2 separate regions of the Homo sapiens genome follow, and region 2 is linked to region 1. The links come from fine-mapping of genetic effects on gene expression. Tissue or cell type: whole blood. Region 1 holds a variant in brackets; the other region holds the start of a gene. All regions are shown on one strand. Distances are from middle to middle.

The links. PIP is the estimated chance that this variant, and not a neighbour inherited with it, causes the effect.
Region 2: CLN5 starts here. The variant in region 1 is fine-mapped to the expression of CLN5 in whole blood (TOPMed, PIP above 0.99).

Annotation. Positions count from the first base shown.
Region 1 is chr13:77,421,730-77,429,839 of GRCh38, reverse strand. LOC124903185 reads right to left here. Exons shown (of 3, transcript XM_047430828.1): 3 at 6,738-7,030. The coding sequence ends at 6,902. LOC124903186 (a long non-coding RNA gene) reads right to left here and starts at 2,244. Exons shown (of 4, transcript XR_007063828.1): 1 at 2,152-2,244. RefSeq lists an enhancer at 28-237. The variant T/C (reference allele first, on the strand shown) is at 4,073.
Region 2 is chr13:76,988,042-76,996,151 of GRCh38, reverse strand. It overlaps CLN5 (CLN5 lysosomal BMP synthase), which reads right to left and starts at 4,071. Exons shown (of 4, transcript NM_006493.4): 1 at 3,881-4,071; 2 at 924-1,089; 3 at 25-250. The coding sequence starts at 4,053. It also overlaps the pseudogene DHX9P1. RefSeq lists an enhancer at 2,567-3,766 and silencers at 3,788-4,027, 4,488-4,557, 4,648-4,737.

The sequences.
Region 1 (8,110 bases):
GGGAGGGACCCAGTGGGAGGTAATTGAATCATGGGGGCAGGTCTTTCCCATGCTATTCTCATGATGGTGACTACGTCTTATGAGATATGATGGTTTTATAAAGGGGAGTTTCCCTGCACAAGCTCTCTTTTCTTGTGTACCGCCATGTGAGACAGGTCTTTCACCTCCTGCCATGTTTGTGAGGCCTCCCCAGCCAAGTAGAACTGTGAGTCCATTAAACCTGTTTCTTTTGTACATTGCCCAGTCTCGGGTATGTCTTTACCAGCAGCATGAAGAAGGACTAATACAACTAAAGTGATAAGAAACTGCCCTTCAGGTTTCTCTTCCCTTTTTTCTACATCTCTTGACTTCACTTAAGATCCGCTTTAGAAAGCCTCCCCATCTCTCTGGCACAGAATCACAAAATTGGCCCTATCTGCTAAATATATCTGGGCCTTGAGACTCTGGGTTACTCATCCTCTCTCTGTAAAATCTCCCCTATTTAAGTTTAAGCATCTTCATTGTCAAGAACATTTTTTCCAACCTCACTCACTCAAGTTATGATATAAATTGCTTTCAATTTAACTAACGTAGAAGTTGGTTACTGGTCTGCAAGTATCCCCTCTGTACTTTATGGATGGTCCTATACAGCCTTTTTCATCTCTTCCTCTAAGTGTGTGACAATGTCTGCTTGAATACAGGGAGTGTTTGCTAAGAAACACATTGTTGTGCTAGATCTAAGACAAAAACCAACACCATCAATGAAAATAGTTACATGGTATCATTATTTTCACCTGTGATTAGCTATGGGGTTTTTGTTAAAATCCAACAGACTGTATCTGAAAAACAATGTGATCTGAGGTGAATCAACGTTCTTAGAAAAATTCCAGTAACTCCTACTAAAAATTGCACACTACCATTAAATAAATTCACATGTTGCTAACAAAAACACACAGTTTAGATAATTGAATTCAGTTACTCTACAATGGAAACAGTACTATTTTGGAAAAGACAGAATTTTAACTGTCATTACTAGGCATGCTCCCATTCTCCCATTTTATTTCTTTGTATGAAAACATTTATTTTGAAATTGTCTATAGGCACAATTTGTCTGAAATGATAGATAATGAGAAATGCATAAGATATGTAATTAGCAGATACTTGCACAAAAAAAGAATAACCTAAAACTGGAATTTCTTCATTATTTTTCTGTGCCTAGAAAATCAAAGATCATATTCATCTTTTCTTCAAACTCTCTTACATGGTGTTTTGTTACTTTTATATTTTCTTATAATGAATGAGTTATCTTAAATGACCATCTTATCTTGCTCAGTCCTTTGTCCACATATTTCCATCTACAGCATTAGAGCACTAGAATTTGGCCCAATGATGGGCCAAAGTATGTTGATTAAATTACTAACTCCTATGAGTTCCCACCAACTTGAACATTTTCATTTTTGTTCATAAGGACATGAAAGGATTGCTGTGAACATTGTCTGCTTTCCTAACAGAATTACATTTTGACCTCTGATAATTGAACCTAAACTTTAGGGTGGGACTTTTCTCTGGAATATGTTAATTAGGACCCCAAGGAACTTAGCATATTTTGCTTATCTAACATATCCAATATGTCATTCTCTTTCTCCTGGAACAGATTCTCTTATAGAAACCATAACTTTTTTTTTTGTCTCAACAAAGATGCATTAAGCCTAGGCATGCCAGTTCCTAAAAGTATAGTAAATGTCATTGTGCAAACTTAGTTACTTCAAAAGGGCAGAATCATCAGAAGGCTCATAGCTGTTGGCTTTGTTTGTCACCTGAGAATGGAATTGAACAACTGCACCAAAGAATTTCTGTACTTGGTTCTAAGTGCTTTTCATGAAGACATAAATGTGTTCCATCATTTTATTTACTGTTTCTATATGTCTTCATCAGGATTCCTCCATTTGTCACCGTACATTCTGGGAAGGATAGCTCATTCTTGGATTATCAGTAACCACACATGGCAAGTATGTCATTGTTAATCAGTTGATTTGTGAGTGAATTCTACTATTAGCAATATCTAGAGTAGCTCACTCTTCTCTGAATTTTCCCAAAGCACACACTTAGCATGTGTTATGGGCTGAACTGTGTTCTCCCCCAATTTTTATATTGAAATCTCAACCCCCTTACCTTGGAATGTGATTGTATTTGGAGATGCGATCCTCATGGAGGTAATTAAGTTTGAATGAGGTCATGAGGGTGGGTTGTAACCCAATATGGCTGGTATCCTTATAAGAAGAGGAGAATAGGGCCGGGCACAGTGGCTCAAGCCTGTAATCCAGCACTTTGGGAGGCCGAGGCGGGCAGATCACCTGAGGTCAGGAGTTCAAGACCAGCCTGGCCAACATGGTGAAACCCCATCTCTACTAAAAACACAAAAATTAGCTGGGCATGGTGGCACATGGTTGTAATCCCAGCTACTCAGGAGCCTGAGGCAGGAGAATCGCTTGAACCCAGGAGGTGAAGGTTGCAGTGAGCTGAGATTGCGCCATTGCACTCCAGCCTGGGGGAAAAGAGCAAGACTTCATCTCAAAAAAAAAAAAAAAGTAGGACACAGGCACAAAGGGAAGACCAAGTAAAAACAAAGGAGGAAACACATTATAAGCAAAGGAGAGACAGAGCTTAGAAGAAATCAATCCTGTGAACCCAAAATATCTGAGACAGGTCTCAACCAATTTATCAAGTTTATTTTGTCACGGTTAAGGACACGCATGTGACACAACCTCAGGAGGTCCTGACAATGTGCTAAGGTGGTCAGGGTACAGCTTGCTTTTACACATTTTAGAGAGACAAGAGACATCAATCAATATGTGTAAGATGTAAATTGGTTCGGTCCCATAAGGTGCAACAACTTGAAGCAGAGATTTCCAGGTCATAGGTAGATAAGAGAGAAGAAGTTGCATTCTTTTGAGTCCTTGGTCAGCCTTCCACTGAATACACAATTTAGTCTGGCTCAGTGATTCTGCATTTTTACATAAACAATAGGGTAGAGGAAGAAATCAGATAGATGTGCATTTGTTTCAGGTAAGCAGAGGGGTGACTTTATGTCCTGCATCGGTGGAGATAAGCTATCCGTTTACATTGCCAGGGTGAAATTCAGCAGAACTGCGTTAGGGCAAAAATCTTGAGCCCCATGAAGAATTCCTTATAGGAAAATTGTGAGGGAAGTATGGAGCTCTTTTACCTTTTTAGCTATCTTATCTAGGAATAAAATAGGAGGCAGGTTTGCCTGAGGTAGTTCCCAGCTTGACTTTTCCCTTGGCTTGGTGATTTTGGGGGGTCCTAAGATTTATTTTCCTTTCACAACACCTTGATCTTGGACTTCTAGCTTCCAGAATTGTGGGAAAATAAATTACTGTTGTCTGAGCCCCCCAGTCTGTGGTACTTTATTATGCAGCCGTAGCTAGCTAATACAGTATGCCAACCCAGGCAACAGTTATTTATGCAATAGTATAGCTTCTAGAGGTCAACCTTATGAGATCCTTGGAATTAAAGTCCATGTCCTAAACATTTCTGTGTCCTCTGCAACATACTCTTTTGCACATAATAGATGTTTAATAAGTATAAACTGAACAAATTAATTTTAAAATACAGAAATAGTACAATATTTGTCTACAAGAATATTTTTAAGCAAGCTTTGAAATACATTTTTTAAAAATACATTTAATTTTTAAATACAATATTAAGGAAAAGGACTTGTAAGTATTATGATATTCTACTACGAATAATACCTAACATGGTATTATGATCTTGAAAGAGCTTTTATATATATGGTAATTGGATGAGTTCCCTACTGCTGCTATAACAAGTTACCATAAATAGAGTAACTTGAAATAACACAAATTACTCTCCTACAGTTGTGGAGGTCAGAAGTCTAAAATCCAGGTCTTATCGGGACTGCTGCCTCCCAGAGGCTCAGGGAAGAATCTGTTTCCTTCGCTTTTCCAGTTGGTAGAAGCTGCCTACATTCCGTAGCTCCTGGCCCCTTTCCCATCTTCAAAGGACATCCCTCCAACCTCTGGTTTTGTCATCACATCTTCTTTTTTTGACT[T/C]TGATCCTCCTGACTTCTGCTTATAAAGAACCTTGTGATGACGTTAAGCCTATCTGGATAATCTCCTCATCTCTAAACCCTTAACTTAACCATAGCTGCTAATCCCTTTTACCATAAAAAGTAATATACTCACAGATCCCAGTGATTAGGACCATGGACATCTTTGGAGGACCATTCATCAGACTACCACATTTTGGGCAAGCTCTGGGTTAGTCATGCTGTAACAGAAGCAAGTGAAGAGGCTAAAGCCGCCCTGGAGACTGCCCAGAAAAGGAAGTAGAGAAGAGAACCTGCTCCAAGGTGAGTATAAGTAAAAGCAGATAGGCAGGCAGAGGGTCAGTGTTTAAAAGGCATATCAAGCTCAGGAGTGGTCCCAGAAAATGAAAGTAAAACTTGTTCCCTGTTCCTGTCAAGCCCACCACCCTGGTAAATTAACTTTTAATTTATTTAGTAGGATGGAGAAATGGAAAGTATATGCCTGCTAAATTTGAAAATTAATTCCATTCAAACGATGAATTCTGGCAATCATTCCAGGTCCATGTCCTAAAAAGTACTTAACCTTTACAGAGATATCATATTAAAACATAATTTAATGGTCAACAGGTATATGAGAAATACTCAACATCCCTAATAATCAGGGAAATGCAAATCAAAACCACAGTGAGATATCATTAAATATTAGTAAATTAGTATAGCCATTATGGAAAACAGTATGGCAATTACTCAAAAAAACAAAAAACAGAACTATTATATAATCCAGCAACCCCACCATTGGATATTTATCCAAAGGAAAAGAAATCAGTATACCAAAGGGATACCTCCACTCGCATGCTTATCACAGCTCTGTTTACAATAGCAAAGATATGGAATCAACCTAAGTATCCATCAATGGACAAATAGATATAGGAAATATAGTATATATACACCACAATGGAATACTATTCAGCCATGAAAAGAATGAAATCATGTCACTTGCAGCAACATGGGTGGAACTGGAGGTCATTATGTTAAGTGAAATGATCCAGGCACAGAAAGACACACATCACATTTTCTCACACACATGTGGGAGCTAAAAAAGTTGATCACATAGAGATAGAGAGTAGAATGATGATTACCAGAGGCTGGGAAGAATGTGTCTGTGGTGGGAAGGGGGTAACAAAGACAGGTTGGTTAAAGAGTACAAACATACAGCTAGATAGAATAAGTTCTAATGTTCAACAGCAGAGTAGTGTGACTATAGTTAACAATGTATTGTATATTTCAAAATAACTAGAAGAGAGCACTTAAAATGTTCCTAGCTCTTGGAAATGATAAACATTGGAGGTGACAAGCACCCCAAAAACCCTGACTTGATCATTACACAGTCTATGCACATAACAAAATATCACATCTACCCCCATAAATATGTACAATGTGTATTAATTTTAAAATGTCAAAAAAAAAAAAAAAGGCTGAGCATGATGGCTCACATCTGCAATCTCAGCATTTTGGGAGGCCAAGGTGGGAGGTTTATGTGAGCCCAGGAGTTCAAGATCAGCTTGGGCAACACAGTGAGACCCCCTAATCTGTACAAAATCTTTATTTTTAATTTCAAAATAATTAGATATATAATAGCTTAATCACTTCAATAGCACTGCTGAGAAAGTGACACCATTAAATTTCAGATATATATATAATGATTATACCTCAGTAGGAAGTACAGACTATAAAGTTTAATAACTTATTCTGAGATTATGATCAACTAGGTACTCTGAGTAGGAATTTTACAGAAGTATAAACACAAATAAGCAAAAACCAAAGAAATTTTGGTTTGGAAAATAAATGGTGAATTTGATTGTTTTGTTTTGTTTTGATTTTTTGCCAGAATTTTTCAGATGTATTATCTACTTTGCCTAATTAGTCCAACCTTATAGCTGCATGAAGTGGACATACTTTATGACTCTCTTTAATCTTTCTACCAGTATCTATTGTTAAAGCAAACTAAATATAGCCTGAGAAGGACTCCATACTTCTATATTTGAGTCCTTGTAGATGAACTGTAATGTAGCTTAATAGTCAGACAAGATTGAAAACCTAATTTAGGAGTATGCACCTGTAATAATAGCTGTGGCCAATCCCAGCAGCCATACTTCAACCACTCATAGGCTGCTAAGTGTTCAAACTGTGTTCAAATAAGGCAAATGCCAACCTGTAACCAGTCCAGCCGTTGCTGTACCTCGTTGCTGATTTTTGTATGTCATTTCCCTCTTTTTGTTCTATAAATCTTCTCCCACCACATGGCTGCACTGGAGTCTCTGTGAATCTGCTGCGATTCTGGGGGCTGCCTGATTCGTGAATCATTCATTGTTCAAGCAAACTCCTTTAAATTTAATTTGGCTGAAATTTTTTCTTTTATCACTATTTACCAACTAACCATAGAGTTTTAAGATTTTCCTAAATATAAAACTAAATTATTTTTATGACAGCAAAAGTTAAAACTACTAAAATTATGCAAAGTTTCACACACACACGAACGTGTGTCATGCCATGAAAATATTCAAAACATACAAAAGCATTTGAATAATTTTGAAACCTCTAAAACATAACATGTTACAGGGACCTAGGGAAAGCTTCCCTTTAGCTTTCCAAAGGTTCACTTAAAATCAACTGACAAAAGGCAGATTAATAGGAGGAAGGCATACAAATTTATTTGATCATAGTTTTATATGTGACACAGGATCCTTCAGGATGAAGACCCAAAGATATAGAGCAAACTGTCCATGTTCATGCTTTGGTTCAGCAAAGTATGGTCAGGCTTGTAGAAATATGACTGGACAAAGAAGGCATGGTCTAAAACAAACAGACTGAGCGGGGAAGCCCGGCAAGGCCTGTCTGTCTGGATTCTTCTTGGCCTCTGTGCAGCATTCCTTCCTTCTGGGTATGGGACAGGACCCTCTCTAGAATGGGGGCTCTTGCAATCTACAATCAAACAAGGTAGGTCAGATAATTTCTTTATGACAAGTTTTTACACAGAAAGGTGGAGGTAAAGTTAAAGTAATATTTTTAGGTTTTTATGGCTGGCTTTGGGATAAAGGGTTCTGGTTTTCTATGACCCACCTTGGAGGAGGGATTCTAGTTTCTATGGCTAGCCTCAAGGGAGTATGAGGGGGCCAGAGACAGGAGGACCAGAGAAAGTCAGAGAAAAACTTTTGCTTCCATGCTGCTCTGAGACCTTCATTTTGGTGTATTATATTCTGACCCCCAACAATGTACATCACACATCACAACTGTTTTTAGTCACTATAGTTCATATGTCTGAGTAAATAGATGCATTCAGTATTCTCTGTCACTGGGTAGAGTAGCAAATAGGAGTTCATCTAACAGTTTAAACTTTTTACTAGCTCTGTAACTATAGGCAAATCACGTAACTTCGCTGAGCCTCAGTTTCCTTCTCTGAAAAATGAAAGAACTAAATTAGAGGATTGCATAAGTTGCTTCTTACTCTCAGATTCTACAATTTTTAAGTCTGTGGGTCCACTTTACCCACATGGTAAAACCCCACTATGGTGAATTTCAGATCAGTTTTGTAATTTTTAGTCAAATGAAATGTTAGGAAGTCACATATTATTAGAATTAAGGACCTAGAAATAAAACAGCTGAGAGAGAGAGAGATTAAGTGAAAAAAAGCACTGGCACATGTAAATTTCTTGCACTTTTTTTATTTCAATAGGTTTTTGGGGAACAGGTGGTGTTTGGTTACATGAATAAGTTCTTTAGTGGTGATTTCTGTGATTTGGGTGCACCCATCACCCGAGCAGTGTACACTATACCCAATGTACAGCATAGTCTTTTATCTCTCAGCACCTCCCATCCTTTCCCCCAAGTCCTCAGAGTCTATTGTATCATTCTTATGCCTTTGTATCCTCGTAGCTTAGCTCCAACTTATAAGTGAAAACATACGATGCTTGGTTTTCCATTCCTGAGTTACTTCACTTAGAATAATAATCTCCAATTCCATCCAGGTCACTGCGAATGCCATTATTTCATTCCTCCTTATAG
Region 2 (8,110 bases), 430 kb after region 1:
TATTGCTATATTTTCACAACTTACCTGATATAGTTGCTACTTGAACTAATGTCCCATTTTCCTTCCAGTGAACATCATCAATTCCCTCAAAAAAGCAGGCAGCGCCTTGATTACACCAGAAAGGGGCATCCATTTCAGGTCGGAGATGGGGAAATGTACAGTTGCCAAGTTGGAAAAGTTCATACCATTCCATTGTGTAGTTCTTGCCAGTTAATGTACTTCTGAATCCAATGGCATCATGCATAATTTTCTGTGTAAAGACAGTACATGTATAAAAGCAACTGTGACACAACCATGGGTCCAGGTAACCTGATAGGAGAAAATGTGGCACATCACAAATGCATATCAAGTAGAACAACTGTTCAGCTGTTCTTCCATGCTGCTACTGTCATATCCACTCTGTGGCCCCAAACTCCAGGCCCTCATCCACCCCAGCTTTGGCCACTACACCCCTATTTGGCTCATCTCAAATAGGAGGCCTGCATGTTATGTGGACAAGCTGATAATTTCCTTAGAGCTTAGAATAAGTGTGAGGAGCCCCCATGCCAGTCTCTGGAAGCAGCTCTACAGACCTCACATGGTGATGGGTTAACCTGGAAAAGTGACTACAACAGAGTATGGAAATCAAGAGGTGTTACCTGCCTGCCCTGCCACTTCTGGGCCTCTTCTCACCTTCCAGGAGCTAGGTACAGGAGCTGGTTTCAGATTCATAATATTACAATGGATAATGGTGATTACATTTGTTGTTGTCAAGATTACAAAATCTGATAGTAACTATTTTTGACTACTCATTTTAAATGTACTAAGACAAACACCAACATGATCTAAAGTCAGCCATCTAAATAGTGATTACTCCTTAAAAATCAACTTAATAACCAAATCATTGAATTAACCAAAGTTATAAGACCAAGATGCATCCTTACCAAGTGTCCCAGGAGGTCTCCATATTTAAATTCCCATACTGGGGCTTGTAATCGAAAAACTTCAATGTCATCATCACCCTCCATAACTGGGATAGGTGAGCCAGTTGGACAGAAAGTATACTTAGCTTGACAATAAGGATCAGGTTTTGGACGGAAGTCAAAGCGCCTAATAAAGAAAAAGAAACCATCTACTTAGATTCTAAAATGAATCTGATTCTTCTCACGTCTTTTAGAATCCAGTAACATTTTTAGGGGACCATTCAAAGGTCGGACCATAGTTAATAAATATAAACACACATTTTGTTATCTTGTGAACAAACTTCCAATAATGTTTTTAATAGCAAATGATAAACTAAAAGCACTCTGATAAATACGGGCTTCCCTGTTCCCTGATCCCACTGTGAAAATTTTGAAGACAGGAATTTTGTCTTAAAATTTTTATAGCTCCAGATCATAGTAGACATTTGCAAATGTTTACAGAATAAATGAACATTTTTCCAATGTGTTCAATTTTACAAACAGTCCATACATTAAGATTATTCAGATAATTATGAGTAACAGAATACATTTTATATTTACTTACGAATTAACATTCATTCAACCAATATTTATTGAGGCTCCACTACATATATAGTGAACTATAGTAAGAAGGAGGGAAACAAAAATTAAAACACTGTTCCCTTTCTCATGGAACTGTGGGTGGGAGCTGGAAAGACACTGAACAAGTAATGAGTGTGGTATGTGCTAGACTAAAGGAATGAGTCCTATGGGCACACAGGAAGGACAAATCATTGTTAACCAGGTATGGGATGAATGGGGTGGGGAGGGCAAAGAAAGAGATGAAGGCCGGGCCTAGGTTTTTAATGTAGTTGATTAGAAGGTTAAGACAGAAAGGCAGAGGAAATGTTAAGTATTGTAAGACAAGCCTGGCACATTTGGTCTCCGGTAGGTACGGAAGACTGGATTTCAGGCCTCGACGCAGGAATGGAGACGGAAGAGACTGGCAGGGGCTGTCATTTTGTCACTAGGAGAATGTGCATGGAATTCCCTGCCTTATAATTGGGGAGGGCTAAACTTAAAGGATGTTAAGTAGCAGATCTGACAGGACTGAATTTGCTATAAAGTAAACCTTATTTCACGAATTAAAAGAGGGTATGGAGAGAGGCCAAATAAAACATGAGAGATCAGTTAGAAGGTGACCTCAACAATGCAGGCAAGAAAAGAAGACCGGAGAAGGCCACAGCAATAGGACTCGAGGGGCACTGCAGCTGAATTCAGCTCAACAGACACACTGGTCACCTATAATCTGGCACTGGGAAAGAAAGAAGTGGTGGCGACAACAGCTTCTATCTAAGAATCCTAGATCCCCAAGGTTGTAGCCAGATCTAACAAATCTTAACAAATCAACAAAAATTTCTATTTTAACTTAAGAAGTTAAAATCTTTATGCTAATCGAAACTATTAACGACGCTCCCAAAAGTTTCTGCTACTTGGGTACAGTGTTTTATAGGCACTTACCTGGTTTAAACAAATACATAATCACATGGAGATTTCACTGACACAGCAAAATCTATTTTAGTTCAAAGGTAATTTAAGTGTGAACTTAATAAACTTAAATATTATATTCAATTGAGGGAATTAGATGGGAGCACGTACTTAATATCTGAGACTTAAAAAAAAAATCCACTAAAAAGCCATAGTCAACACCTTGCCCTAATGTTAAATCAAATCGTTTGGATTTACAATTCTTGTTCTATTGAGTAATTTTGACTTCTTACAAACATTTTATTATTAACATTTTCCAGAAAACTAGCTTCAACCACAAACTTCTCTTTCCACGTAGTATATCACACAAAACAAAAAAGTGTTGTAAACATTTCAGTGAGCAGAATACACTATCTAGGTTTGACAACAGCTGGCATTTTACTAGATTTAATCCTTCCAGCAAACCTATGAGGTACGTGCTACCACTATTCCTATTTTTTGACTCAGGGCATGTGGGCACAGAGATTCTGAGTAACTTTCCCAAGATCCCTGGTGATGACAGAGCCAGATTTGACCCGCAGCAGGCAGAACTCCTTCCCACTCATACTGTCATACAAAATAGCTGTTTTTTTCAGGTTTGTTGTGTGCAGTTTTAGCTGTTGATTACTTATGCTAGTAAGTTAAAATTATGTCCAATGATGCTTTTGGTTTAAAGAAAAATAGCTGTTTTCAAAAACTGCTGGTCTTTCTCCTGCCTGATGTTGACACCATGTTTTCTTTCTCTGTGTTTAGCTATCTCTGACCGCCGGAGGCTGTGTCTTCTCTGTCAAAGGCTGGAATCGACCTCCCAGGTGTGCGGGCTCTGTCCCCGACTTAGGACCGGCGTCCTACCTCCAGGCTGAAGACTGGACAAAAGCGGTGACAATCTTCCCGGTCTAACCAGGACTGCAGGAGACGGGGATTCCCGGGATGCGCGACTTTTGAGGGCAAAACTGGGAAGTCCCAATAAGGACTTCGGATCAGGTTCTGATCAGGTTCAAACCAGAGCGAGTTGGTCGCCCAGTAAATTGTACCAAATGTTCCGCGGTAATAACTAACGACAGTGCATGATATAAATAAATGCGATAGACAGTGTTTTTAAACTACTCAAGAAATCAGCTACTTGTACCCAGAAGTCCCTCCATTAAATAACATTACTCTCCTTTTCTTCTTCCACGATTCAGGACTGTCCTGAGTCTGCCGCAAGTGACCAGAGGGGACGAAAGGTCCCAGGGCTGCACGTAACGAGCGGCTGCGACTCCCCAGTCCTCAACTTTGCTCTCAAGTGCGCTCCGAGCGTCACCCGGCGCTGTCCCCGCACCATCTCGTGACCCGACACAAACCACGGTGAGCAGGGGTCCCCGCCCCAGCACCCCATCCCCCATCGTCAACGCCGACCCCAACCCCGACAGTGCGCGCGCCGCCGCACTCACTTGTAGGGCACCGGCCAGTGGCGCCGGGAGGGGATGCCCGAGACCCGGGACCAGCCCGGAACCACCGCGAGCCAAAGCAGCGCCAGGGCCCAGCACCAGGAAGCGCGTCCCCGAGCCGCGCCCGCGCCCCGCCGCATCTCGGCGCCCTGTGCCGTGTCTACCTCCTGCGCCATCAGGCTGCACCCAGTACTTCCGGAGCCTCTCGAGGCCTGCGACGCCGGTGGGAGGAGCATGCGCGGAGCCGCCAGTCCGGGACGCGGGGCGCCTTGCCCCTGCGCGTCAGCTCCAGAGCTTGGCCCCAAGCGCAGGTTCCGGCGCATGACACCTCCCCGCGCCCGGCCCGCGGCGGCTTCCACACTTTGCAGTCCAGGAAGGTGCTTTGGTCTGGCTCCCAGGAGAATTCGATCCAGACCTGGGGCGTCATCTTTTATGAATTGACCTGTCCTTGCCCAAAAGCCACCACCAAAACCAAAAATCTGTCACCGGGGCTCCTCCCAACACCGAACTTTTACCCCATCCCACAGGGCCCACGCTAGGTGTCAACAAACGTTGAGTGAACGAGAATGTGTATTTGGAGCTGAGGGTGCAGGGCTGGGGGTGCAGTGAGGAAGAAGGGACAATAGTGCGGAAATGGCTCGTCGTCACCCGACCTGGGCCAGTCATAACAGTGGTTAACACTGACAATATGTGGTCCCTGCCACTCCCCAAGTGCTTAGTGGGGAAATGACTCGTCCTCACTCGACCTGGGCCAGTGATAACAGTGGTTAACACCGACAATATGTGGTCCCTGCCACTACCCGAGTGCTGCCGAATCTACCCCCTCCCCTACCGCTCCCCTCACAGGCAGGTGTTCCTTGCTTGGATCTGTCACTTCACTGGAAAGAAGTTTCTGCATCACCTTCTCTTCTTTGACTCTTCAACTAGGTCAAGAAAACAATGGCATCAATTACCCGGCTTTTGAGGAGCCTCTTGTGGCATGCTTTGCTGTTAGGCACAAATACTGACTTAAGTCTATACGTAGTACATTCAGGGCCTTGCCATAGTCACTTGTTTTTACCAGACAGCAGTTTTGCAGGGCCTTAGACCGGGACTTTCCAATTCCTTCACTTCACCCACAACTCGTGTGAAGCATCATAATGTTTGTAAGCCTATGGGAATAAGCAAGGTGGCTTCGGTAGCCGGAGATGACCACCACAATCCATTGGAGGATATGTAGCTTGTGGGGGTGTCACTGACTTCCTTGGGCCCTCCAGGTCTCTTGATTACATATGGGACTCAGTACCCTGCCCCAAACACACACTCCTTTGCCCACTTGCTGCTCCAGGTTTGGGGGTTTTGCGGAGGTTCAGGCTGGGCTGCATTTTACCATACGTTTGTCTAAGCGTTTTGATAGCTACCTAGCTCTCCTCCGTATACTATGGCCAAATTCAAAATTACCAAGGCTAAACTGGCTTCTTCAAAGACCTGCCCAAGATAAGAGGGGGAAGCATTCTAGCCCTGAGAGCTGAAATGTAATGTCTGATTTGAAGGGCACCTGAAGGATTCCGTGGCCCCACACTTGAGCCTAGCTTAAAAAGCAATCAGCAGGAACAGCTTTAAAAAAAAAAAAAAACATTGATTAGAGCATTTACAAATCCTGGAACCATACACAGTATGATGTATGAGGGCCACAGTAGATGGCCTCAACAACCAGAGCCTCCGTGGCTGCCTGGAGAGCGGTGATGCAGGCAGCAGCTTCATGAGATATTTGCAGTTTAATCCAGTCATCTGCAAGCACAATCTGCCCATCAGATTGGACTTTCTTGGAGGCAAAGAGAAGCAACTGCAGTGGGGTGACTAAAGTCATGCCTTTAGCAGAGATGGCTCGAGTTCAAATCTTTTCACCAAATACAAAGAAGGGAGATAGGTACTTCATGTCTTGGCTACTAAAAGGACAATTAACAGTAGATGGTTCCAGGTTCCATCTACTGTTAGTAGAGGGCCACAGTAGAACCTCCCATTCAGTTCAGGACTTCCCAGAGCTACAAAAACAAATTCAGGTTGACCTTGTTCAGTGGTGGAGGCCTCTGGTCTTGCTTCTGCCATCTGTCTCTTCATTCTGTGTGCAGGGAGCTTTCATGGTAAGAAAGCACTTCCTAGTATTGGTTTTTATTTTTTATTTTTTTGGAGACGGAGTCTCCTTCTGTCACCCAGCCTGGAGTGCAGTGATGTGATTTCGGCTCACTGCAACCTCCGCCTCCCGGGTTCAAGCAATTCTCCTGCCTCAGCCTCCCTAGTGGCTGGGTACAAGTGTGTGCCAGTTGTAATTTTTTTTTTTTTTTTTGGTAGAGACGAGGTTTCACCATGTTGGCCAGGCTGGTCTCGAACTCCTGACCTCAAGTAATCCACCTGCCTCGGCCTCCAAAAGTGCTGGGATTACAGGCTGTAGTCACCATGCCTGGCCCTAGTATTGGTCTTAACTCAGCCTCCTGGTAGCTCCCATTCTTCTGGTCTGGTTTTGCCTTGGATGGGAACACTGATTAAACCCCATTCTTTTTGTCTATGACCCCACACCCCAAGCTGAAGGTGCTCATAGATTATCGCTGGTCGATACTGGTTGCTTCCCCCTTGTCCATGGCTTTTAAATCTTGAGGGCCCACAGACAGAACTAATTTCAATCTAATTGGTTTCCCTTGGATCCTTGCCCATTCAGCCTAAGACTGCCTGGACCACATGGCATCTCCCCAGATAGAGTGATAGGATTCTGGGGAAGTGTGGAGTTGAGATGAAATTTAAATAAGCAGTATTTTGGTAGACTCAAAGCAAAACAAGGCTGTATGTCAATGATGGTAGTGGCTGCTCCAGACGGCCTGCTGCTGCCATCAACACACAGGCTCTAGGTCTAGACTGCAAAGTGGATGAAGGGCCTATTTCCTTGGAGACTATGAAGTTAAAATAGCGATGGAGTTTTGTGTCTGGAAACCCCTTATCAGAAGCTTGACATCTGGGTTGTAAATTGAGGCCAATTCTCTGTGTGGAATGACTGAGGTCCTTCAAGCAAAGGTGGGATATTTTATTGTTACTGATGTAATTTCAAACACGAAGTTGTCTCTAATCTATGATTTTAGAGAACAAAGTTTCTTAGTGAATAAGAAAGCAGGAAGCCAGGCAAGGTGGCATGTACCTGAAGTTCTAGCTACTCAGGAGGCTTGAACCCAGGACTTTGAGGCTATAGTGAGCTATAATCGTGCCTGTGAATAGCCACTGCACTTCAGCCTGGGTAACATAATGAGATACTGTCTCTAAGAAAAAATTTTTTTTTCGTGTAATACTTTATTTTCCATTGTATTAAATGAAAGCCAGGAAAATATCAAGTTATTTTTAAAGACAAATCTTTACTCCTTAAAGAAAAATACAAACTGTGGTATTTCTAAGATAGATCGTTACATTTTACATAATATAAACAAAATCACTAATGCATCTATATGCTTGGTTTCCTTAAGCTACAGTGAACCACAGAATGGGTTAAAATGCATTTACTTTTTGGTGGGAAATAAACATTGGAAAAAAATGTCACACATAGCATGGCTTTTTTTTTCTTACTGTCTACACACAGGAACTGACATAACCAAGCCTTAACAGATGCCACCTTCTCTTCCTTGTCCAAAGTAGCCAGTTCCATAGGCCCCCCTACCACCTCCTCGCTGGAATCCCCCAGATCATCTGTAGCCTCTACTAGGCCCTCTGTAATCTCCTCCAGAGTTGCCTCTATAGCCACCTCAGGAAACTTCTCTATAGCCTCCACCAACACCTGCACCATATCCTGCCCGACAGGAGCTGGAGCTGCCACCATAGCCTCCGCTACGATAGCCTCCACTGCTATAGCCACTGCCATAGCCTTCACTGCCATAACTAGAACCTCCCCTTCTATATCCGCTTCCATTGTCATATTGGGCCATCTTAGGAGGACCTGGACCATCTCCATACCATGTACTGCCAATCATAAGGTTGATATCAGCAGCTGAGGGTCTAGAGATTTGACGGATCATGTTCAGTATACTTTCATTTACGGGGTCCAACTGGCTGATGATAGCAGGTTGTTTGGTTACTTCAACAACCAGAGCCTCAGTGGCTGCCTGGAGAGCGGTGATGCAGGCAGCAGCTTCATGAGATATTTGCAGTTTAATCCAGTCATCTGCAAGCACAATCTGCCCATCAGATTGGACTTTCTTGGAGGCAAAGAGAAGCAAC